4 linked regions of the Homo sapiens genome follow. The protein of the gene in region 1 interacts with the protein of each later gene in a pairwise test. Each region holds a gene or a part of one and is shown on either strand. Other genes may lie near its edges. The genes, in order: ITSN1, INPPL1, DLGAP1 and EPS15L1.

Region 1 (2,896 bases):
TTCCGGTTTTCTACATTCTGTGCTGTTTCCAGCTAAGAAAAAGGCGAACTCCCACTATATAAAGGGAAAAGGTTGTATTCATTTCATGTTCCTCATGAAATCTCTGCTGTATGTTTATGGAATGGCCATGACTAAATGTATATATGGTATGTAAGAGGCCATGCTGTTAAATGTTGCATAAACTAACACAGATTCTGTAGTCAAAAATATTTAACTTGTTATTGTAAAATGTGATTTGTCATTGAGAGATTATTTTTCTGTATGTATATGAGAGTATTTTAGGAATCTAATTTAAGTGCATAAAACTATAGAAAAAAATTTAAAACCTATTCCAAGAGTAGAAAATGCTTAATGAGATTACTTGGGTTCAACTCAACTAAATTTCTTATATTAAAAAAAAATTCCAAGTTGTATATGTTAGAAATCAAATGAGTCATTTTTTTTCCTGCAGGAAATATGATAAATTTCAGTGTAATGGATGGTGGCGTGATCAAATGAAAAGTATCCTGTAGCTATGACCTCGCATGGGACCTTGGTGTTGCATTAAAAATGGATTTTTGCAGATCACATATCTGAGAGGGTACTTGTGTCAGGAAGGATGAGAGGATAGGGAGCCTGTTTTTCATCAGATCCATGTGCCACGCAGGCTTCCTTGGGTTCTAGTGGATTTGTTAGGGATCTGGGGCTGACGCAGCTATCCCACTAGAGAGGCCACTCTCTGACTTCCAGGTCGCCCTTTCTACTTCTGTATCTGGATTGATTCAGTTTATCCCTAATTAGCGTTTGCGTTTTCCATGAAATTTCCTGATGCATCCTCACTGTCTTCAACTGTTGCATAGCCAGGTGGGTGGATGGATGGTTTAGGGTTTCTGAGTTAAGCCGTTTTGGGGCAGGCTTCTGGATGCCCATGTTTCCATGGAGACCCCAGGGGGAAGATGCCTTCCTCCCGTCTGCATTCCCAGAAAAGGATCAGAAGTCCAGGCTGCTTCTGGGGCACAGACTTTCTGTACTTGGCCACCAGAAGTGCCCCTTAGGCCACCTAAGGAGGATTCTGTGAAACTCAATGTCTAAACCCCTGAGAAAGGCATTCAGAAATGATTTCAGGAGGGGGCAACCCCAGGAGTCCAGCCTCCCCTGGCAGCCTGGAAATACTGCAGTAACAAAAAGAGCTGGTTTCTGGTGATCTGAATGCATTGTGTTTGGGGGTGACACCGCTGGTGGAAGGTTGAGGGCCTGTGGTCTGAAAAGACATCTGAAGAATGTGTTAGGTTTTCAACATTTCTTTGAACAGGCTGCGTGCATCTTAATGCTGTCAACCAGCAACTGGAGCCCCTTTTTTGAGAGGCCCGAACCAGTAAAGCTGCTGACTTCAGGAGTATGGGAAGCTGTGATTTCTGGAAGCTTCCTGGAATCTATTTAGGTGCATGAATAATCTGCAAATCACTTAGAGGCACTGTCCATGTGGTCCATAACTGGCTTTATTCCCAAAGATGGAGCTGTTCAGAGATTTCTTTGTTCAGGCGCAGCCTTGGAAGGCCACCTAAGGCCTGCCAGCAGAGGAGATGAGCTCTGGTCTACCAACCCCAAACAGGCCCTGACTCTCCTTCCTTAGAACGATGCCCTCTGGCTGGGGTGGCAAGAGGGCTGTGAGTGGAAACAAGTCAGCCAGTCAACTGTCCCTTGGGCCTTGGTTGTTTCAAAAAAGTCTGGGGACAAGAAAAGCTAGAACATGGGGCCCTCCCTTCCCAGGAGTGCTAGCGAACCCTCCCAGATAGCCTTTGCCTGTTTGGAAAAGAATGTAATCCATCAGAACGTGAGCTCCTTGTGCTTCCAGTGACAAGCGGGCCACAGTGCTGGTGGCATGTTGCTTCCCTCACAGCCCTGCCCAGGGGTAGGACCAGGCCCGCCCCTTGATGGATGTGCTGTTGATTGTAATATACTTCTGTTGCCAAATAATGGTACTGTTTAATTTTCCATAAAAGAGAGACTATATTGTCTGATATGTAATGTTAATGGAATTCTAAGAATTACTAGACACTATTATAAATTGTAGACTTACGTATTTGTCTAAAGGTTTGATGAAGCAGGGCCAAAACATTGTTTCTTCTTTTTTGTTTGAAAGAAGCTGAGGTTTGTTTTTGCTGTTTGAGTGTTCCTTTGGCAACTTATTATGTGTGAAATGTTAAATTTTACCGATTAAGATGATGGTAACTGAGACCTTTCTTTAAACCAGTAGCAACATCAGTACAAATTGCTCTTCCTGTGTATCTTGAACCTAAAAAGAACAATCTCTTCAAAAACAAAAACAAAAACAAAAAACAACTCTTTGGTCATTTTGACCTGTGTGGTTTAAATTCAAATAGTTCATGAATAAAAGGAGAAAAGCCAATCTGTTATAGTGGATTATTTTGGGTTCTTTCTGCTTCACTCTTTTCTGAGAGCACAGGAAGCTAACAGCCCTGCAAATGGTGTCTCTTCCTCTTCCCACAGATAAGATTGTAGCTGTGCAAGGAAAATTGTGCAGAAATAAACCTAGAAAACAAAACCAACCAACAACCCTTTCAGCTGTCCTGCGGCTTCAGATAAATGTTAGCTAACACCAAGCAGAAATAGATTTCTGTGTACGAAGTCTTTGTGAGAACAGGAGAAGTTTTGTGTTGTACAGCATAAGAAATTCTGAGGGTGGGGTTGAGAGGGCGGTGCAAAAAGCTGATTTTCTTATAAAGACATTCAGAAGGGTCGCTGAATTTCCAGGAAGAAGTTTCTAACACACGTAACTCCACGTGTTCAGCACTTGGGTGATCTATAATTCTGCGTTCCATAAAACCCAACGCTGAATTGTATTAGGTTGTTTCCTCCTGTTCTGGTTTTAAGGCCATTCCTACCTATTTCATCA
Region 2 (7,035 bases), on another chromosome or scaffold:
CTTTATCCTCACTCATGCCCATGCCCATACACACACACACACACACACACACACACACACTCTCTCTCTCTCTCTCTGCTGGCCCCACACTCCCTCCCAGGCAGGCTCTCCAATAAACTCTTATGTACCCCTCTCTGTGCCCTCACCCATAAGCAGGGGCCCTGCCCACAGCCTCACCGTGGGCAGCTGGCGTGAAGACCACTGCACTTTGAGGAAGTTGATGTTGTCACTGCTCTGGGCATCATTCTCAAAGCTCTTCTTGTATTCTGGGGTGGGGGTGGGAGACACCCAACTGAGCACCACCTCTCAGCTTCCTTTCCCCCTAAGTAGGGGGCTGACTGCACCCTCTTGCCTCCCATCCTCCTTGGCCCACACCCAGCCCCTGCCACGCCTCTGACCCTCCAGGCAGGTAGAGTAGAACTCGATGAAGAACTTGGTGCGGCTGGCTGTCTTCACAATGGCCTCGATGCTCTCAAACTCAATGTAGGCCTGGTCTGAAGTCTTTGAGAGCCCTGAGGAGAAAGGGAGGAGAACAAACAGGAGGACTGAGAGGATCACAGGAGGAATGGGACAGAGAAACAGGGCCCTGGGACAGGAAATCAGGGGTCCAGAGCAAGGAGGCAGGGCCAGGAGGGGCCTCCCCAGTCCCAAGCCACCAACAGGGAATCTCCAGAGGCCAGACCCTGGACCAGAGCAAAGAGACAACCCAAGGATAAAAAACCCATTGAAGAGGGTGCTGGGGACCAGAATGCCTGCAGGATTCCCACACCTACAGGCATACTCAGGGACACACACGTGGCCCTAGACAGACACAGACACATAGATAGGTGTACACTCACGTATGCACACACACTCATGGGCACACAACTCTTGTGATGGCCCAGGCGCACAGACACCCTGACACATCACACCTTGAGAAACACTCCTGCACTCACTGGTACACACACCCACACACACACTTACATAGTCAAACCTATGTACATCCCGAGGCCACCACCTGTGCCCACCTAGATTATGCCACACCCACAAGCATATCTGGAACAGTCACCTTTCTTGGAGATGAACTGGGAGGTAACTCCAACCTCAAATGTCCCAAACACGGGGGAATGGTCGCTGGTGACGATGTCATCAGTGCAACCTGGGGAGAGGGGATAGGAATGGGGACTCAGGGGGAATATTCCCACCCTCGGCTCCCACCTCCCAAGGTTAGGGCAGAGTCCAGATGGTGACCACCCCAGATCTCCCATCACTCTGTCCGGGAGGCTCTGACCATAAGAATTGCAGATGATGTGAGTTTCAGGGTAGGATTTCCACAGAATCCGGTCACACCATGAGGGCACATTGGTCCGGACCTGGGGCAGGGGATGGCAGCATGGTTAGAGCTGACAGCTAGGAGGCTGCTTGGCATGGACCCCACTCCAGAGCTGATGAGTCCCCACACTTCTATTACTAGAGGCCCTAGCACCCACCTCCCTTCTTGGATCCTCAAAATACCCAGGATCACCCAAAGGCCTCAGAGGGGCCATGGAGGCTGGAGTGGAAGCTGCAGAGGCCCATACCCTTGACCCAAATTCTTGATTCATCGCAGGCCTGCGGTCCCCCAAGGCCCATGCCGTTTTCTTGGCTCACCCCAGTTGGCTTCTGCTTGTGCCAGGCATATGTGTCCCGGGAACCCCGCTCATAGCGGTAGGTGGGTGGGAAGGAGATCTCCTCCTCACCTAAGGAAAGCAGGAGACAGGTGGGGTTCAGGGCCCTGACACCCAGGGATACTGCAAGTCTCCTAGCCCTCAGATCACCACCTACCAGGCCCACACTCACTGAATCGAAGGAAGACCTTGTGCTTCTCCCGCTCCAGGTTGAGCTGGTCCACCCTGAGGAGGGGCTCAAACTCTTTCCTGCTGATGTAGTTCAGGATCTCCTGGGGTGGAGGACACAAAGGCTAGAAACATTCCTCCGGAGCCAGAGCCAGGGGTGATAGCCCATGTGGCCCTTAGCCTCCCTACAGCCATGGCAGGGCCCTGCTCGCACCTGGATATCCATGTCCAGGCGGTAGTTGAGGTCCCCAAACCAGAAGAGGTGTGTGAAACGCAGAGAGATGTCAAAGGCATTGAGCTGCCGGTCGCCCAGCGAGAGCAGCCGCAGGATGTCCAAGTAGTTTTGGTTCCTCCTAGGGTGAGGGGTGCGTGGTGGGGAGGGGTAGATCCCCAGGGTCAGGGCCAGAAGTCAGGGATAGGCATAAAGGGAAGAAGTCTCAGGAGTCAGGGATGGGGTAAAGATCCGGGCCCCTGGGGACAAGGTTAGGGTCAGGAACAGAAGGGTCTTGAATTGGGATAAGAGAGCAGGGGGTCTCTGGAGACAGGCCTGCGGGAGGGTCATGGGCTAGGGTATGGGAGCGGGAACAGGCCTCAGGTGAATGGGATGGGTGTAAAGAGACCATGGGAAAGGCGCCCCCTCACCGAGCCGTCTTCTCATTTCCCGAGGTGAGGTGACAATTCACAAAGCCAAATGAGGTGCCATTAAACATGAAGGAGACGCCCACAGCCCCCTTGTTCCCTGTTAAGGCAAGCAAGAGAGGAAGGCCTGGGTCATCCTCAGAGGGCTCCCAACTCTCCCTTCTGCCTCTCAAAGCTGCAGTGAGAGGATCCTCCCGCTGAGCCCACCAGACGCTGTGACATGGGCAGGCCCCTGCACACACCCACACCTTCCCTGGGGGAGGGGGGGGTCCTCATTGGGCACACATGGTCTGTGTGGATGGCCTGAGTCTGTCTGTATGTGTGAGCAGAGCCCCTGGAGATCACAGGGGACCCCAAGGGTGAAGCTGAAAGGCCCTGCAGATTCTGCGCAGAATCTACCTGGGAGAGCACCAGACCGAAAATCAGGAGACCTGGGCACAATGCCTGGCTCCACCACTTACTTGCTGTGTGACCTTGGGCAGGTCACTCAACCACTCTGGGTTTGAGTTTTATCATCTGTGAAAAGGGGGTAATTATCCTGGCCTTGCCTTCCCAGTGGTGCTGGGAGAGATTTAGAATATGAATATGTTTTTCAAAGTTCAAAGTACCCTATATATGGGGAAACTAAGATCACCAAAAATGGGGCAATCCTAGGCTTGAGAGGAAGCAGAAGCCATGGACAGAGAGACGCTGCCACTCTTGGGCACCTGCCAGCCCCACTTACCCAGGGTGTTGGCGATGCCAGTCTTCACACTGGACGTACTGACATGGCTGATACGGTTCTCGTGCTCTGGCTTGACCAGCACTGCCACCTTGATATTCCACAGTGATTGCATGGCAATCTGGGTAGAGAGTGCATGGTCACCACTGCCCTGCTGCACCCACTGCCTGCATTTCCCCCTGCACTATAAATAGACTTTTGTGTCCATCACAGGGTAGGAAGGCTTGCCACCCCTCTTCCTGACGGACTGGAGAGAAATGGTTCCTCTCGTGGCATGAAGGACTCAGGTCAGATCTCCCAAAGGATATGCTCAGGGACCAGAGAAAAAGCCAGTGAAGCTGTGCTCCCAGGGTTGCCCATGAAGTCAAGTAGGCTAGTTTGGAGGTGGTGTGTGAGGACAGGGTCCTGGACAAGATGACCCCCCCTCACCGGGCGGTAATCCAGATCCGTAAGCTCCTTGAGGCCCCCGCGCAGTAGGTCCAGCCACTCGCGGTCGCCCACTGAGTTCTCCTGGGTCCCAAAGACATAGATGTCATGGGGTATGGTCACTGTGACCTCGTCCAGGGTCTTCCCCAGACCCTTCGATGTGAACCAGGATGTCACGTTTTTTGGAGGTGGTACACTTCCTGGAGGTGAAGGGGGTGAGGTGGGTCTGGAGGGGTTAGGCACCTGCTCTGGGGCCATCCCTCTCTCCCGCCCCAGCCCCAGCCCGGGCCTGACCCATGTTCCAGGTGCCTATGAAGACTGAGATCATGTCGGGCTCGTCCTGCTTGGAGTGCTTGTTCTTCATGAGCTGCAACAGCTGGCAGAAGGCCTCCCGCTTCTGGGGGAACAGCAGCCACTCAGGGGCGGGTAGGCATCCAGGAAGCCCCCCGTCCACAGGGATACCCTGCCAGTTGGCTCATGTCCATGAGGAGAGGGTCTGTCTGGTTCTCCACTGCATACCCACTGCTCAAGCATATAACAGTGCTGGCAAATGTTATCCACCCTCAGGCCACCCGTTCTCAACACCCTCTACCCTGTCAGACCTACCCCTGCCAGGAGGGATGGCATGCCTACATCATGTGTTCCCTTTCTTACCCTCCAATGGGAAGCACCCATGTGGGGGACCCCCGCAGTCCCCAGTGGCCTGGCCCAGCCTGCTGCTCACCCGGGCACTGACAAAGATGAAGTCCTTGCGCTGAGTCCGGTCCTTCTCCTTCTCAAACACAACACCCAGCTTGTTCTGGACACGCTGGGACTTAATGAGCTGGCGGACTAGGGCATGGAGGACCGGTCACATGGGCCTGTGCCCCTAGGCCAGGGGCTCCGCCCTGCCCACCCCTCCCAGGTCTGGCCCTGGCTCACTGCGGTCGTGCGTGAAGGTGGTCCAGTCCTCCTGGGAGTCCCGCTGTCTCCGCAGCAGCACCAGCCGCCCACCCTCCACATCCACGCTCAGCGTGAACTTCTGTGACTTCCCAATCTTGGTCAGGTCACCCAGGGTCACATCTAGCTTCACCTGTAGGCCAGGTGGGGAGGCTGCTGACAAGACCTTGGAGTAGGCAGCACCCTGGTCACCTCCAACCACCCTTGGCCCTGTGAGGCCCCACTGCCATGTACCTCAAAGGCCTGCACGGGGATGGTCTTGGCCTTACGTGTGGATGGCTGCGGAGCTGGGGGTGCTGTGGAGCTCATGTCCTGTAGGGCCTTCAGGGCCTGGAGGGAACAAGGGCAGGGCGGGGTCAGGGGACACACTGAAGGCTGGGGCAGGGAGGGACACAATTGACCTTGGGGCCAATGTTAAGTTGTAGACTGAGGGTTGAGATCAGTGCTAGGCCAATGACAGTGGCCAGTGAATCGGGGGTCAAGGGTCAGAGATCATGCCACCTTCTTCTGGATGCCTGACAGGAAGTCCTTTAGCACTGACAGCTTCAGCACCAGGCTCTCTAGTTCCTGCTCCCCTGTCTGTGGCAGGTTCTGGGGGGAGGAAGAACCAGGCTTGTACATGAGTCACCTAAGCAGAGCCTCCCACCCAGCTCCAGAACACGAACGCACCTCCCAGAGGTCTCCCTACAATCTACCTGCTGCTGCAAAAGGCGGGTCACCATGGGCGAGCTCTGCTGGTCAAACACCTTGGACAGGATCTCCAGGCCTGACAGGACCTTGTCCACCTCACTAGGGAAGACATCAGATCAAAAGAACTCCCACCCCGACCTAAGTATAGGGAAGGGGGCGCTGGGTGTAGCCTCAACCTCACCACAAGGATAAAGGCTACCAGTGAGGAAAGTCAAGAGGCAATGGCTAGTTCACTGTTCAGGATCAGAGATCAGGGCACCTGTGCAGCCGGGAAGCAGGTGAGGACAGGTCAGAGGTAAGGGTGTAATACATGGGGCTGGATGTCCCAGATACCTGTGCAGCCTCCGGCATGAGGTAGCGAGGGTACGGGTGAGGTGGGGCAGGTGGCTGGCTCCACCCCTCACAGCTTCCAGGTCCAGCCCATAGCTGCCTTTCAGGTAGTCGTGCGAGACGGTGCTCAGCCCATTGGGAGCACTTTGGGGAGGGGTTAAGAAGTCAGTGGAGGTCCTGCTGACCTGTCCCAGCACCTCTGCCCCATCCCTAGAGGAGATAGTACCTGTGGCAACCAGGGCGGGATGGATCAGGTTATCTGCCTCTGGGCTGAGGTGGGGTGGGGGTCCCTGGTGGGGTCTTAGAAGGCCTCCCCACCTTTGGTAGGGAAATAGTTCTCAGAGGAGAAAGGGTCTCCTGTTCAGTGGATGGGATGGGGGTCTCACCTCTCAGCAGCTGGAGCTGTGGGAGTCTCAGGAGCTGGCAGGGGACTGCTGGGCCCAGTGGGGGCAGAAATGCTGGTGGAGCCAGAGCGCGGGGGCAGCGGGGGCTTCTCATCCTCCCCATCTGTGGGCAGGGGTCAGTGGGCAGCCGTTTGGGCCTCCCACACTCAGTGGAGTAGGAGGCACGATGCAGCTGTAAAGTGACTTCCATGGAAAGAGGGTTAAAGGGCCCCGGCATCATGGCCAAGGGAAAGGGGGTTACAGGAGAGGTGGGGTTGAGAAGGGGGGATGGGAAGAGGCAGGTAGAGCCAAGGGACAGGGGCAGGGAGGGGACCTGCACACTGGGAAGTACCTGAGGCATCCCGGTCATCCGGTGGGTCCGGCTCTCGCTCACCCTCTACAGGAAGAAGCAGGGCGCACACAAGGCCCTGGTTGGGCTGGGCGTACAGGCCGATGAGCTCACCCAGGGTCTGGAAGCGGCGCACAGGCACACCCTGCGAGGTCTGTGGGCCAGCAAGGGTGGGAGGAAGGGTCAGCCAGCAGGTCCCCAAGCCCTAGGCTGGATCAAGGTCAGGGGTCAGGGGCCCAAGCTCCTACCTGCACAGCCAAGAAATCTTCTCCATCAGGCAGAATGCGATACGTGTGCACATGCTTCTGATACCTGATGCCAAGGCAGGGCCAGAATCTGTCACCCCCAGGCTGGGGTCTAAGACCCAAAGCACCCCTTCCTCCTGCCAGCAAGCTCAGCACCCCAACCCCCTCAGCTTGGTTTCCCTAAAACCACCTGCCCAGGCTGCACAGGGTTAATGATGTGGCCGGTCCACTTCCACCCTCCTGGTGTTGCCTATTGGGCAGGAATGACCAGAACACCCCCGTCTCCCCACCAGACCTACACAGACTCCACACCCACCACAGGGCAGGGCCTGAGAAGCAACAGGGAGCTCTTTTGTGGCCTCCACAGCTGTCTAAACAGCCCCTCTGGGCTGTGGTACCAGTCTGGGCTCCCCGCCAGAGTAAGAGTCTTCAGAAGCCTGGTTAGCCCATTTGCACACACGGGCAACGTGCTAACACGTGTGTATGCCTCCTGTGTTTA
Region 3 (7,035 bases), on another chromosome or scaffold:
CATCTCTCTCCTATATTTTTATCCAGGTAACATCTGGTTTCAGTGAACTGGAGGAAAACACAAGGAGACAGTGGCAGGGGAAGAGCAGCCTACCGTGGCTCTGTAAGTGTGTGGGATTTACATGCTGACACTAATTGTATTTTACTTCTCTAATCCTTCCTCCTTTTCCTCCTCCTCTCTGTTGTCCTGGGTGTCTGCAGCTGTGCTTGTCAGGTCCCCAAACTGGCTAGCTCCCCACCTCCTCAGGGCACAGGGCGTCTTCCTGATTTGCTGTGCCCTCGATGTGGAAGCTCAGGTCGGGGTGTAGTTACTGATGGTTATGATGATGACCATCGCAGTATTCTAACATAGCTTCAGGCAGGATTTCACAATGAAAACCACCCCACAAAACCCTGAATAGATCTAATGAAACTCTTTCCAAAATTCAAACGATCGTCACGTATTTTTGAATTAAAGAAAGGTGGACTTCTTTTAAAATTCTCTGTAGACTTCCCTTTCCTCTCTTTCCCATCCTATGATCCCTCAGACAAAAGAGGAAGCCCATAATAACTGGTTGCCTTTCCATAGGCGTGCTTTTCAAAGCACTTGGATATCTAGTGTCTTAAGATAACCCGGTGAGGTCGGTAGCATTTGTTTCTTTTCATTTTCCCTACAGGAGCAATTCGGCACAGAGATGCCGAATAATTTGCACAGGTTCCTATCTTAATAGACAATTCAGAGTAGTGCCAAGACTAGAACCAGGAGAAATGCCCACACAAGCATGCCAGGTACTACTTCTAAGCCTCCATCATTGACAGAAATGGTACCTGCAGGTACTGGCAGGAGCGTTCTTGCTGACACGACTCGGACTTCACCATGGCCTGGTCCATGTTCACCGAGGCCTTCTGGTAAACCTCCCGGGCCCGGCTCACGGTGAGCGTGGAGGACCAGGCGCTCTTCTTCAGCAGCGGGGTGTCCAGGCTGACCGGCAGGTTGGCGCAGGTGGAGCACTTGACGTCGTTGTTGCTCCGGGAGGCCTTCACCGCCTGCTCGCTGATGGTGTTGTAGGCCTCCAGGAAGTACTGTGAGGCCGAGCGGTCGGGGCACCTGCCCATGGTCATCACGCCCGAGGGGGCGTGGTAGATGCACATGTCACCATCCAGGTTGTCGTCCGAGCTCCACCAGCCCGGGGAGGTGCTGGGCCGGGCCTTGGGCTCCGCGCGCCGCTCCTTGCTCTTGCTGCGTTTGCCATAGCGCGCCGCCTGCGCCTCGTCAGGGCTGGCCTTGCCCCCGTTGACGCTGCCCTTGGACGGCCCCTCCAGGGAGTGCGACTTGGTGAAGAGCTTCTGGACCGAGTGCACCAGGTGGCGGATGCGGCCGGGGCTGTCGCTGCGGTGCTCCACGGCCGTGCGCTTGTACTGCAGGGTGTGATAGCCATCGCGGCTGAGTGGCAGCTGCCGCTCGAACTGGTCCAGCAGGTTGGCGGGGATGCGGTTCGCCTTGGTGGCCAGGGTGCGGGGCACCAGGGCACACTCGTCCTTCAGCTCTTGCTGCGAGGTGTAGTGCCTGCGGGGGAAGGTGCTGCTGGCCAGCGGGTCGCTGAAGGGGCCCACGCACTCAGCCTGGAAGGAGTTCCGCTGGGTGTAGTATGGGTGGTCTGCGGGGTGGTGCTCCACTGGGCTCAGCAGGTAGGGCTTGCGGTCGGAGTGGTGCGACAGCGAGTCACAGGCCGAGTCGCAGGTGACCCCGTGGTGATGGCTGCGGCTGCCTGATAGCCCTTTCATGGCGGACCGGAAGCAGCCGCCAGGGTCATGGACACCCGGAAGTCAGGCTCCAGACCCGTCTTGGGCAGGGATCTGGGGGAATGAAGAAAAGGGCAAAGTCGTTAACATTTCTCTTGGAAATTAGGTATTGCACTTTACAGGGTCTTGCTCTGTTGCCCAGGCTAGAGTGCACAGGCGCCATCTCTGCTTCCTGCAGCCTCCACATCCTGGGCTCAAGCCATCCTTCCACACCAGCCTCCCGAGTAGCTAGGACTACAGGCAGGCCCCACCACGCTTGGCTAATTTTTTGTAGAGAGGAGGTCTCACTATATTGCCCAGGCTTGGTCTCGAACTCCTGGGCTCAAGCTGTCCTCCCACTTTGGCCTCCCTTAAGTGCTGGGATTACAGGCGTGAGCAACCCTGCAGGCCTGGTATTGATCTCTTGAGGGTGCCATCTGCGACCGTGTTTTTTTGGCAGAACTTAATCAGTGTCCCCTAAAACAGCTTGAACGCATTATTGGAAGAGCTCTGTCACCTCTGTGGGGCAGGAAAGCTGACTCCAAAGCCTGTAGGGAGAGAAGGTGGAGGTAAAGCTAGAAAACTAGAAAAAGGAGGCCGGGCGCGGTGGCTCACGCCTGTAATCCCAGCACTTTGGGGGGCCAAGGAGGGCGGATCACCTGAGGTCAGGAGTTTGAGACCAGCCTGGCCAACATGGTGAAACCCTGTCTCTACTAAAAATACAAAAATTAGCTGGGCGTGGTGGTGGGTGCCTGTAATCCCAGCTATTCGGGAGGCTGAGGCAGGAGAATTGCTTGAACCTGGGAGGCGGAGCTTGCAGTGAGCAGAGATGGCACCACTGCACTCCAGCCTGGGGGACAGAGCCAGACTCCATCTCAGAAAAAAAAAAAAAAAAAAAAAAAGAAAAAGAAAACTAGGAAAAGAAAACTATATTTAAAAAAAAACCAAATTGTTTTTAAATTATTTGAAACAATAACTCTCCTTCCCTCTATGACCCCAATAACTGGATGTATCGTTCTCTTGCTTCTTGGGTCTTATTCTTTTTTTTCTTTTTCTTTTCTTTTTCTTTTTTTTGTGAGATGGAGTTTTTGCTCTGTTGCCCAGGCTGCAGTGCAATGGCACGATCTCGGCTCACTGCAACCTCTCTCTCCCGGGTTCAAGTGATTCCCCTGCCCCAGCCTTCAGAGTAGCTGGGATTACAGGTGCCTGCCACCATGGCTGGCTAATTTTTGTATTTATGAGGTTTCACCATGTTGGTCAGGCTAGTCTCTACATGTTAATTGTTAAAGATAGAACTGGAGAGGGGCTCAGTTCCTCTAGGAAACCTCTGCTGGCTCTCCTAGCAGAGAGAATTAGTTCCTCTCTTGTGTTTCCACCACATCTGAAACTCACTCCCCAGAACCTACAGAGTTGCTTGCTTCAGGATCTCTCTTCCGGCTTATGTTCCTTGCCTCCCAGTCTATTAGTCTCATTATGTACCCCGACCTAGTGTCGATCCAGCCATGTAAGCACACAGTAATAGCACTCCATAAGTGTGAATGAAAATGTGAGTTAAAAAACAAGATGAGCCGGGCGCGGTGGCTCACTCCTGTAATCCCAGCACTTTGGGAGGCCGAGGCAGGTGGATCACGAGGTCAGGAGATCGAGACCATCCTGGCTAACACGGTGAAACCCCGTCTCTTCTAAAAATACAAAAAATTAGCCAGGCATGGTGGCAGGCGCCTGTAGTCCCAGCTACTCGGGAGGCTGAGGCAGGAGAATGGCATAAACCCGGGAGGCGGAGCTTGCAGTGAGCCGAGATCGTGCCACTGCACTCCAGCCTGGGCAACAGAGCAAGACTCCGTCTGTCTCAGAACAAACAAACAAACACTAAGATGAATAATAGAAGCCAATGGCACCTCGTATCTTTAGGATATCTCTGTCTTCTGTTGCATGTTTTCCTTTTTGAATTCTGTAGGAACAACTTCACCACACAAACAATCCCCCCAGGTTACTCAGAGTGGGAAAAAGTAAAGATATGGCAAATAAATCATAAATGTAGAGAAAATCTGCCCAGGTATTTCTGTCAATTGAGGGTCAAGAGCTTTCTCTAAACAAACAGAGAACAAGTTAAGCTTGACTAGGCTAATTTGAGGATCATATATCTCTTCTTCCTAGTTTAAGGTTTCTGGTTGAGTATTTACGCACAAGACCAGGCGTGGTGGCTGACGCCTGTAATCCCAGCACTTTGGGAGGCCAAGGTTGGAGAATCGCTTGAACCCAGGAGTTTGAGACAAGCTGGGAAACATAGTGGGACCCAGTCTTTAAAAAAAAAAAAATTAGCTGGGAGTGGTGGTGCATGCCTGTAGTCCCAGCTACTCAAGTGGGGAGAGGATTGCTTGAGCCCAGGAGGTTGAGGTTGCAATGAGTTGTGAATGCACCGCTATACTTCAGCCTGGGTGACAGAATGAGACCCTGTCTCAAAAAAAAAAAAAAAAAGTTAATAGCCGATGGCAAAATGACCAAAGGATGGCCCTTGAAAAGTTCTTGAGGACATGAGTGAAGGACCCCAGACCTAATAGCTCAGCCTCAGGGAAAAGTCACTCATTCATATCCCATGTAGGGTATCTCAGTCCATTTCCAAGCTCGGATCTTCCGGAGTTTTAGTAACTAACAGAGGCTGCTATTCCATCAGGGCAGAGTATTTTCTCTGGACTCCAAAACAGTGTTAGAGTCAGTGCCTGACCAAGTTCCTTCTGACAGCCTGATTTTCTTTCAAGACTTCCTACAATACAAAAATTGCCATATAAAGAGTCATCTTGGAAAGCCAACATGACTCTCTAAAATATCACTAATGTCATTTCAGATATTCCTAGAGAGATAGATATGTGGTTTAATTAAGAAACAAAACATATAGTGCTGGGTGCGGTGGCTCACGCCTGTAATCCTAGCACTTTGGGGGGCCGAGGCAGGCGAATCACCTGAAGTCAGGAGTTCAAGACCAGTCTAGCCAACATGGTGAAACCTCGTCTCTACTAAAAATACAAAAATTAGCTGGGCATGGTGGCGGGAGCCTGTAATATCAGCTACTTGGGAGGCTGAGGCAGGAGAATTGCTTGAATCCAGGAGGCGGAGGTTGCGGCAAGCCGAGATCGTGCCACTGCACTCCAACCTGGGTGACAGAGCAAGATTCCATCTCAAAACAAACAAACAAACAAACAAAAACAAACAAACATATAAAACACCCACACTGGACCTCATGAAAAAAGATTTTTGAGAGGCCAGGTCTTGTCTATTCCATGAGACATACTGCATCTGGGAGCGCTCATGACAATGTTGGCAATCTCTATCCATGCTTTGTGAAGCTCCTTTCTTCCTCCTGTCTCCCAGTTTCTGGATTGACCATTCAGGAATAATGATGAAAGGTTTTAATCAGTACAGTCACTCAAAATTTGTTAGTCTACTAAATTGTGACGTCCTTAAGGGTAGGGACTATGTTTCACCCACCTAGTATTTGGCAAAGTGCTATCCTAGTGGATAGTGGGAATTAAGTTAGTAGAATATTTACTCAATTACTTAATGCATTAATGCAAAATTTCCCAAAGTGGTTCATAGTGTGATTCAAGTAGCATCTGTTTAATGAAAACATGACTGTGTGGCAAAGGCCAGGCTGGGCAAGGCCAAGGAAAGATGCCCAATAGTTGGGGGGACCATTCCATCAGGGTGACCATTCCAAAGACCAGTCTTCAGAGCAAGGCAGGAAGCAGACTGGTGAACACTCCTTCTGACCTATATACCTTTGACTTCTAACTCTGCAACTCACTGGGCAATATCGTACCTTCTGCCGTTCTACCTGTCTGGAAGTAAAGTCTGGGGAGTTTGCCTAACCTGCTGACTACAGGATGCTTAGACAGAGGGCAATCCGCCTGGAAGAGAGAGAGAAACTGACTCTTGAAGGGACAAAAAAGGAATTCAGGACTTATGATACCTGTGGATAAGGAAGAACCGATAGGTAAAAAACGTGTCCACTGGTGACAGACTAATGAAACAGAAAACCTTGGGATTGCTTTGTATGAAGTTATGGTCCTAAAAGTAGGCTGTGGCAAGGAAGAATGTAAGAGGGTTAAGTATGTGTTTTTAGCAAAACTGTGGCACAAACTAACTTAGATGCAAAAATCCATTGCATAAGAAAGTCTCTCTCTACAAATCAGGTTCCACTGAGGACATTTTTGCCTTTCAAATACAGACTTATAAAAAGCAAAAACAAGATTCTATTAGGATTATAGACACATACTAACTTTTATGATCACATATAGTAGAATCTCAATATATAAAATGATGTGGAATAATGTTTCGAACTTTCCTTCTCAAGCAGTTTGAATCTTGGGTAGATATTTTCTGCTAAATAAAATGTGAAACTGGCAAGAGCTGAAAACATGAATTATACATGTTTACTCCAAAATATACAAGATTATTTTAATCAGGTATTCAGTATTTAATTATCTTTAATATGTGAGCAACATTCCATGCAAGATGACGTTACCTGAGGACAAGCAGAGCAAACGAAGAGCTGTTTAAGGCCACTAATGATGATTTAAGTTAAATGATGTAACCAATGATAATTTCTGTAAATTAATCATACACAGTGTGTTTTTTACTAAAATTTAACTGGGCTATTTTCAGCACAGGACAAGCACCTCTATTTTCTTGGAGGGTAACAAATTGCATCCAGAATAAATAAGCTAACATTCCTCCTTCCTTACTTGTATTTGTAAAAGAGATATTGAGATCTTGATCTTTTTTCTCTATGATGTGGGAAAAGAAGGTCATAAAAAATGGCAATAAACATTTCTAAATGCTAAATCTATCTTTCTGGTCAAGGCCAAATAAACAACTTAATACCATGGCCCTTTCTGTAACAAATCTTACACTCTCTTCTATCGTCTTGTCATTTTAAAATGAAAATAGGTCAATTTGTGATTATAAAAGAAAACACATTCTGTGACTTCTTGGTGAGCAAGGGCAAATGATCTAAAATCCTAAGGCCATTGGCAATGGGTAGACAATTGCTGGTGGCACCTACTATGGAGGTCCTGCTCTTCCTTCTCTCATTCTTCATTTTCCTCTTGCCTTACTCTTAAACTCCCTTTCCAGCACATTTATCTCTGTCACTTCTTTTTTCCCCCCTCTCCTAATTAATGTTTATAAGTTGTATCCATGGGTACCACTTGCTGCCACCTGTGGTGTGACCAAGAGCATCATTAGAAAGCTTCCTTGCCTGCTGCTGCAAAGACGA
Region 4 (7,580 bases), on another chromosome or scaffold:
TTTGAGGTTGCAGTGAGCTATGATCCTACCACTGCACTCCAGCCTGGGGGACAGAGCGAGACCCTGTCTCAAAAATCAAAAAGATGACTTCCACAGTGGCGTGGGATTAAGTGGGAGGGAGTGGGCAAGTAGGAAGTAGAATGGCCCAGACCACTTTGGGGCATGGCAAGGAAATGGCCCATTCCAGAGTCCAGCAGGCTGGCAGAGGTGCAGGAGAGAGACACCTTCTGGACTCTAGAAGGCAGGTTTGAAGTCCTCTGCACAGAAGCTCCAGGGGAGGGAGCGCACAGAGAGATAAGATGCAGGTAGGGAGGCTGAAATTAGGGGACAAGAAGGAGAGACTGAAAGGAGAGAGGATGAAGAGTGAAGACCGACGGGCTCCAGTGTTGCGGAGTTCGAGGAGGATCGGCTGCAGCCACAGGGCACCGGGGTTAAGGACGGAGGGGCCACCGGTAACCTCGGGGAGTACAAGGAGGAAAGAGATCTGGATGCATTTCCACGGAAGGCTTTTTGGAAAGCAGAAGAGAGCTGAGCAGGGGGACAGGGAGACACACAAATCACTGAGATGCTGTTGGGAAAAAAAAATCACTCCTAAAGAGGCAGAGGTGCAGACCTTTCGAATTTACGTTGATATTCAGGGTCAGAAAAGAGTATATAAGGAAGGAGATTCTGAGATGATGTCATGGAGTACAGAACAGACTGAAAAAGATGCTGATGGGAAAAGTGCAGACAGGAGTGGGGGTGGAGAAAACACACCCCTCCTCCCCTAGGCTAGCCCGCTGGGTTATCCACTTTGCTCACCTTCACCTGGCCATCTGCTTGCCAAGTGTGCTCTGTCACCTAAATCCAACCAGATCACAGCCACCTGCTGCAGGGTGCTTCCCTTTTGCCCCCAACCAAAAATTTTGGAATTATACCCTTGGTTCCCCCAGAGTTATCTGTGAACCCAAGTGATCTCCTGAGCTAGACAGTAAGGGCCTGGGAGGGCCATGCCTCACACCTGGGCCAACAGTAACCCATGGTGTAGATTTTCACTCGAGAGCAAGTGTAAAGAAGTGCTGACATTTCCAAACGAAGAAAACCAGGCCACGCCTTCATTCAACAAATGTATAGGGAAAGGAACAGGAAGAGGCTAAGAAGTCAGTGACCTGGCCAGGCGCAGTGGCTAACGCCTGTAATCCCAGCACTTTGGGAGGCCAAGGCGGGTGGATCACTCGAGTTCAGGAGTTTGACACGAGCCTCGCCAAAATGGTGAAACCCCGTCTCCACTAAAAAAAAAATACAAAAATTAGCCGGGTGTGGTAGCACGTGCCTGTAGTCCCAGCTACTCAGGAGGCTGAGGCAGGAGAATCACTTGAACTCGGGAGGCGGAGGTTACAGTGAGCTGAGATCATGCCACTGCACTCCACCCTGGGTGACAGAGCAATACTCCATCTCAAAAAAAAAAAAATTGGACAGGAAGTTTTAGAAAGATCCACGCCTCCCAAACTGGGAGTGCTTAGTGCTTTCTCATGAAATGATCTTAGGTGATTTTCCCCCGACTCCCGCCTTCCCCGCCCCCCACCCCCTGACTACATACTCTAAACTGTAGCACTTAGCTATTAACACCTATTATCGGTAGGACACTTAACAGTTTACAGAGCACTTTCATGTCAGTAACAAGAACTTGCTAATTAATAATCACCGGGTTTTAGCACTGTTAACTTAGTGACAGTGTTGCAAATTGGCTAGCTGTGCACTTCTCTCTCCTTGGATCAGCTAACCAGTCATGCAAGCATGCAACCGGCCTATCAACTCTCTTTGGGTTTGGAATTCTTAATTGCTGCGGTCTCTACTCCCAAACGTCCAAATCTGGCAGAGATTAAATGATGACAGTAATTATAGGATCACTGAGTGCCTCTCATATGCTAGGCACTGTTCTAAGCGCTTTTTCACGTGCTTAATTTTCACATAATCCCAACACATTTTTATATCTCCATTTTCCAAAGGAAGCAACTGATGGGTGGAATGGCTAAGAGCTTCAACCAAAGGCACAGAGAAATCGGGGCTGGAGCCAAGATTTGAACACATGATCTGACCCTGTGTCCTCACTCTTAATCACCATGCTGTGCTAGATCATTCTAGCAAAATGCTTATATGGTGCTTTGCACAACACAGGTATTCAGCAAATAAAGGCAGCTGTGATTAGCATAACACAGGTAGTTTCTAGTTCCCACGAGTGTCACCTCCAGGAAAGCAGCGACCTTGTCTGTCTGGAAGAATGCAGCGCTCCCAGCACCTGACCCAACGCACATTTGAGGGATGGATAGAAAATGAATGAATGAAAGTCTCTCCCAAATAACAGAGCTGCCTACGCATGGCTCTTTTTCGCATGTCTGTGTCGCGCTATCGATACTGCCCCTTCATAAGCGCATCAGGCGAATTTGAGGACACAGAGAGGCGCCCGGAGACGTACGATCTGCGCCCGGTGCAGGGGTGGCGGAAGCAGCTTCCAAGGAGGCAGGGGATCAGTCTGAGATCGCACTGCTGCTGACGGGTCCGGGCTCCGGCGGGACCCTGCCCGCCCGGGCGCCGGGACCGGAGGGAGACAAAGACTCGCTGGGCCGCCGCGCCGACAGAAACGCTCGCACCCCTCGCCCACCCCTCCGGGATGCAGCCCAGCGCCTCCGCGGGTCCCCGGCCTGGGAGCTTCAGCGGCGGCAGGGTCCGGGCCCTGGGCGGAGAGGACACGCGCTGCGCACCTCCTCGCCTCGCCGGTGCCCGCGAGGGTCGCTCGGGCACGGGAGGCCGCGGGTCCCGGCCTGTCACCTTCAGGGCCGCCTGCCCACCCGCCCGCCGCAAGCCCTTCAGCACGCGCCGCCCCCGCCGCCGCCTGGCTGAGTCTCCCAGCGCCTCAGCCTCGCCGCACCGCTCGCCTCGCGCCCCGCACCCCGGCGCCGCCCCCAGGCCCGCCCGGCCCGTACCTGCTGGGAGAGGGGGATGAGCGGCGCCGCCATCTTCCCGCGGACTCGGGCTCCGAGCGCCGGGGGAACGGGGGCGGGGCTGCAGCCACGCGTGCGCACTGGGACGACGGGAGGGCGGTGCGCAGGCCGCCTGTCCCGGGAGAGGGCGGGGCCGTAGACAGGGCCACGCATGTGCAGTCAGGCCGGGAGGGGCGGGGGCAGGGGCGGGGCCGCCCACACGCAGCCTGGAGGGGCTGGGCCTGAGGCATCTGCGTCTTCCGTGCTCTCTTGCCCGTTCCCCTACTCCTCCTTCCAACGTTGTTCGGACTCTCATGCCGCTGGCCGCTGTCCGAGTCGACCATGCTGTGTCATCCCTCCAGCCCATGCCGAGGCCTGGTTCTCTGTTAGGGATGCCGTCCCCCTGCCAGTGCGCCTGGGGAGGCGGTCGCCCACCCCGCGGAGGGTCGGGACCCTCACCCTGCCCCGCAAAGCGCCCTGTTCCTAGGATCGCAGTGTGTGTGTGTGTGTGTGTGTGTGTGTGTGCGCGCTAATTTGGGGGACCCGCACCCTGCCCCCCTCACCCTGCCCCGCAAGGCGTCCTCCTGGCTGTGGTGGCGGGCACCTGAAATCCAAGCTACTCAGGAGACTGAGGCAGGAGAATTGCTTGAGCCCAGGAAGCAGAGGTTTCAGTGAGCCAAGATCACACCATTGCAATCCAGCCTGGGCAACAGAAGCGAAACTCTGTCTCAAAAATAAATAAATAAATAAGACAAGAACCCACTTGTTGCCAGGTACAGTGGCTTACACCTGTAATCCCAGCACTTTGGGAGGCCGAGGTGGGAGGGTCATGAGGTCAGGAGTTGGAGACCAGCCTGGCCAGTATGGTGAAACATCAATATGGTGAAACCCCATCTCTACTAAAAAAAATACAAAAATTAGCAGGTGTGGTGGTGCATGCCTGTAGTCCCAGCTACTCAGGAGGCTGAGGCCAGAGAATCACTTGAACCCGGGAGGTGGAGGTTGCGGTGAGCCAAGATTGCACCACTGCACTCCAGCCTGGGTGACAGAGTGAGACTCTGTCTCAAAACAAAGTCAAAAACAAAAAGAACCCACTTGTAACTGTTGCTAATCAAAGCATACATTCAGGGCAACTTGAATCTGTGTCTCCTGGACTGCGGTCCTCAACCTTGGCCCAAACTCTCTACTTATATTAACTTTGCCTCAGCTTCTTTTGTTACATCAATAGAGTAATGAAGGTTTTTAACAGTCTTGAGTGCTTTATCAGTACGTATTCCATAAGGAAAAGAGAAGTCCTTCTAGGTACTTCAAACAGAGGATATTGAATACAGGGGATTGAGCCAGGCTCTGTGGCTCACACTTGTAATCCCAGCAATCCAGTTGAGACAGGTAGATTGATACCAGCCTGGCCAACATGGAGAAACCCCATCTTTACTAAAAATACAAAAATTAACCCAGTGCAGTGGCAGGTGCCTGTAATCCCAGCTACTCAGGAGGCTGAGGCAGGAGAATTGCTTGAACCTGGGAGGGGAAGGTTGCAATAAGCTGAGAACTCACCATTGCACTCCAACCTAGGTGACAGAGCGAGACTCTGTCTAAAAAATAAATAAATAAAAATAAATGAATACATAAACGACTACAGGGGACTGAGTATAAAAGTGTTGGAAGTACTGGAAGAACAAAAGAGGAAGGTAAGTTTACCTAAAGATTCATAACTATATGAGGCTGCTAGCCTCTCTAGAGCTGAAAGATTAAAGCAGGGGAGGTGGCTGGGCATAGTGGCTCACGCCTGTAATCCCAGCACTTTGGGAGGCCGAGGTGGATGGATCACCTGAGGTCAGAAGTTTGAGACCAGCCTGGCCAACATGATGAAATCCCGTGTCTACTAAAAATACAAAAATTAGCCGGTTGTGGTGGTGGGCACCTGTAATCCCAGCTACTCGGGAGGCTGAGGCAGGAGAATCACTTGAACCTGGGAGGCGGAGGTTGCAGTGAGCTGAGATCACGCCACTGCACTCCAGTTTGGGCAACAAGAGCGAAACTCCGTCTCAAAATAAATAAATAAATAAAGCACAGGAGGACCCATAACCCACAATCACTGTGCCTACAGAAGGATCCCAGATGTGTTCACCCTTGCTAGCCACAGTTGCCTCCACCATGATTGCGAAAGTCACAGTTGTTGTTGTCACCACCACCTAAGCCACTGGCAGAAGTCTGAAAAAATGGTTTCTCCCCTCTTTCTGCCTCCCAACTTTGTTCTAATAAAGCATGACAGGAACGTTGCCAATTGGCAACGGCGTCCAGGAAATGTAGCATGCAGGCTTTAAGTGCCAGTATCAGAGTCTAGAATGGTGGTGGCCATAGAAACTCTCCAGCATCATCTTGTAAAAATAATCCAAACTTGGCTGGGCGCGGTGGCCCACACCTGTAATTCCAGCCCTTTGGAGGGCCGAGGCAGGCAGTTCACGAGGTCAGGAATTCGAGACCAGCCTGGCCAACACAGTGAAACCCCATCTCTACTAAAAATACAAGAATTAGCCAGGCGTGGTGGCGGGTGCCTGTAATCCCAGCTACTCGGGAGGCTGAGGCAGGAGAATTGCTTGAACCTGGGATGGGGAGGTTGCAGTGAGCCAAGATCGCACCATTGCACTCCAGCCTGGGCAACAAGAGCAAAACTCCGTCTCAGAAGAAAAAAAAGAAAAAAAAAAAGGCCGGGCATGGTGGCTCACGCCTGAAATCCCAACACTTTGGAAGGCCGAGGCAGGCAGATCATGAGGTCAGGAGATCGAGACCATCCTGGCCAACATGGTGAAACCCCATCTCTACTAAAAATACGAAAATTTAGCCGGGCATGGTGGGGGGTGCCTGTAGTCCCAGCTACTTGTGAGGCTGAGGCAGGAGAATGGCATGAACTCAGGAGGCGGGTCTTGCAGTGAGCCGAGATCGCGCCACTGCACTCCAGCCTGGGCAACACAGAAACTTCGTCTCAAAAAAAAAAAAAAAAATCCAAACTTAATCATACACTTTTGAACCCTAAGAATTATGTTGAGCCTTGAAGAAAACGGGACTGTGTGATCTGAGCCAGACAGCATGTAACTACAACTTCTGCTTATAGATTATAGATTAACTCTCCTGTTCTTGCTCTGTAGATTCATTTCAAGACTAAATGGCATCAGCGTTAAGATCGCCCTTCTTCATTGCTGACCTTTCCTCTATTATCTTGCACCTAAATCAGACCAGATAGTGCAAAAGGTCCTGTGACTGTTATGTCCTCTATGTGAATGTTAAATATACCCTTCCCAAAAAGACCACTGCCTTGACTAATCAGATTACTGTTAACTATGTACTTGCCTTGTGTGAAATATGTAGAAACGCTGTCAAGCTTCCCAAACCTTACCTATATAAATGACCCCCAAACTTCCTCAGTTTGGAATGCTGATTTCCATTCTTTGGAATCTGTGTTCCAGGGTGGCCGTCCTCAAACTTTTGTGCTAAACTAAACTCTATATTTAACCATATTTCCTGAATTTATTTATTTAGGGTTGATGTTTTGATGATCCAGATGGGATCTGAAGTGGAGTTCCAGTGATCCCTGCCACTTCTCACAATCAGACCCTTTGTACTGTTACCGCAAAGGGGTCTTGATCCAGACCCCGAGAGGGTTCTTGGATCTCACCCAAGAAAGAATTAGTGCGAGTCCATACAGTAAAGTGAAAGCAAGTTTATTAGGAAAGTAAAGGAATAAAGGAATGGCTACTTCATAGAGCAGCCCCAAGGGCTGCTGGTTGCTTTTTTTTTTTGGGAGAAGTTTCACTGTTGTTGCCAGGGCTGGAGTGCAATGACGGGATCTCAGCTCACCACAACCTCCACCTCCTGGGTTCAAGTGGTTCTCCTGCCTCAGCCTCCTGAATAGCTGGGATTAGAGACATGCACCACCACGCCCAGCTAATTTTGTATTTTTAGTAGATGTGGGGTTTCTCCATGTTGGTTAGGCTGGTCTTGAACTCCCAACCTCAAGTGATCCGCCTGCCTCGGCCTCTCAAAGTGCTGGAATTACAGGCTTGAGCCACTGTGCCTGGCCAGGTTGCTCATTTTTATGGTTATTTCTTGATGATATGCTAGACAAGGGGTGGATTATTCATGCCTTCCCTTTTTACTTATTTATGTATTTATTTATTTATTTTTTGAGACGGAGTCTCGCTCTGTCACCCAGGCTGGAGTGCAGTGGCGCGATCTCGGCTCACTGCAAGCTCCGCCTCCCGGGTTCACGCCATTCTCCTGCCTCAGCCTCCCGAGTAGTTGAGACTACAGGCACCCACCACCACGCCCGGCTAATTTTTTTGTATTTTTAGTAGAGACAGGGTTTCACTGTGTTAGCCAGGATGGTCTCGATCTCCTGACCTCGTGATCCACCCATCTCAGCCTTCCAAAGTGCTGGGATTACAGGCGTGAGCCACCGCGCCCGGCCCCCTTTTCAGGCTGCCATATACAGTAACTTCCTGATGTTGCCATGACCTTTGTAAACTGCCATGGCGCTGGTGGGAGTGTAGCAGTGAGGACCACCAGAGGTCACTCCCATCACTATCTTGGTTTTGGTGGGTTTTAGCCGGCTTCTTTACT

What was found.
Region 2: the proteins of ITSN1 (region 1) and INPPL1 interact in binary tests that used the Homo sapiens proteins (3 or more experiments, as listed by UniProt).
Region 3: the proteins of ITSN1 (region 1) and DLGAP1 interact in a two-hybrid assay, tested with the Homo sapiens proteins (2 studies listed by BioGRID and IntAct).
Region 4: the proteins of ITSN1 (region 1) and EPS15L1 interact in binary tests that used the Homo sapiens proteins (3 or more experiments, as listed by UniProt).

Annotation. Positions count from the first base shown.
Region 1 is NC_000021.9:33,897,473-33,900,368, forward strand, and holds the end of ITSN1 (intersectin-1), read left to right. Parts: 3' UTR 1-2,389; downstream 2,390-2,896. UniProt on the Homo sapiens protein: Adapter protein that provides a link between the endocytic membrane traffic and the actin assembly machinery. Acts as a guanine nucleotide exchange factor (GEF) for CDC42, and thereby stimulates actin nucleation mediated by WASL and the ARP2/3 complex.
Region 2 is NC_000011.10:72,227,758-72,234,792, reverse strand, and holds part of INPPL1 (phosphatidylinositol 3,4,5-trisphosphate 5-phosphatase 2), read right to left. Parts: intron 6,604-7,035; coding exon 6,540-6,603; intron 6,446-6,539; coding exon 6,295-6,445; intron 6,067-6,294; coding exon 5,946-6,066; intron 5,786-5,945; coding exon of another isoform or gene 5,704-5,785; coding exon 5,563-5,703; intron 5,329-5,562; coding exon 5,235-5,328; intron 5,131-5,234; coding exon 5,041-5,130; intron 4,870-5,040; coding exon 4,774-4,869; intron 4,673-4,773; coding exon 4,522-4,672; intron 4,432-4,521; coding exon 4,325-4,431; intron 3,998-4,324; coding exon 3,895-3,997; intron 3,801-3,894; coding exon 3,604-3,800; intron 3,296-3,603; coding exon 3,178-3,295; intron 2,554-3,177; coding exon 2,457-2,553; intron 2,168-2,456; coding exon 2,029-2,167; intron 1,919-2,028; coding exon 1,819-1,918; intron 1,719-1,818; coding exon 1,630-1,718; intron 1,353-1,629; coding exon 1,271-1,352; intron 1,139-1,270; coding exon 1,049-1,138; intron 513-1,048; coding exon 399-512; intron 267-398; and 2 more. UniProt on the Homo sapiens protein: Phosphatidylinositol (PtdIns) phosphatase that specifically hydrolyzes the 5-phosphate of phosphatidylinositol-3,4,5-trisphosphate (PtdIns(3,4,5)P3) to produce PtdIns(3,4)P2, thereby negatively regulating the PI3K (phosphoinositide 3-kinase) pathways.
Region 3 is NC_000018.10:3,878,306-3,885,340, forward strand, and holds part of DLGAP1 (disks large-associated protein 1), read right to left. Parts: intron 1,836-7,035; 5' UTR 1,764-1,835; coding exon 807-1,763; intron 103-806; exon of another isoform or gene 27-102; intron 1-26. UniProt on the Homo sapiens protein: Part of the postsynaptic scaffold in neuronal cells.
Region 4 is NC_000019.10:16,468,950-16,476,529, forward strand, and holds the start of EPS15L1 (epidermal growth factor receptor substrate 15-like 1), read right to left. Parts: upstream 3,022-7,580; 5' UTR 2,997-3,021; coding exon 2,964-2,996; intron 1-2,963.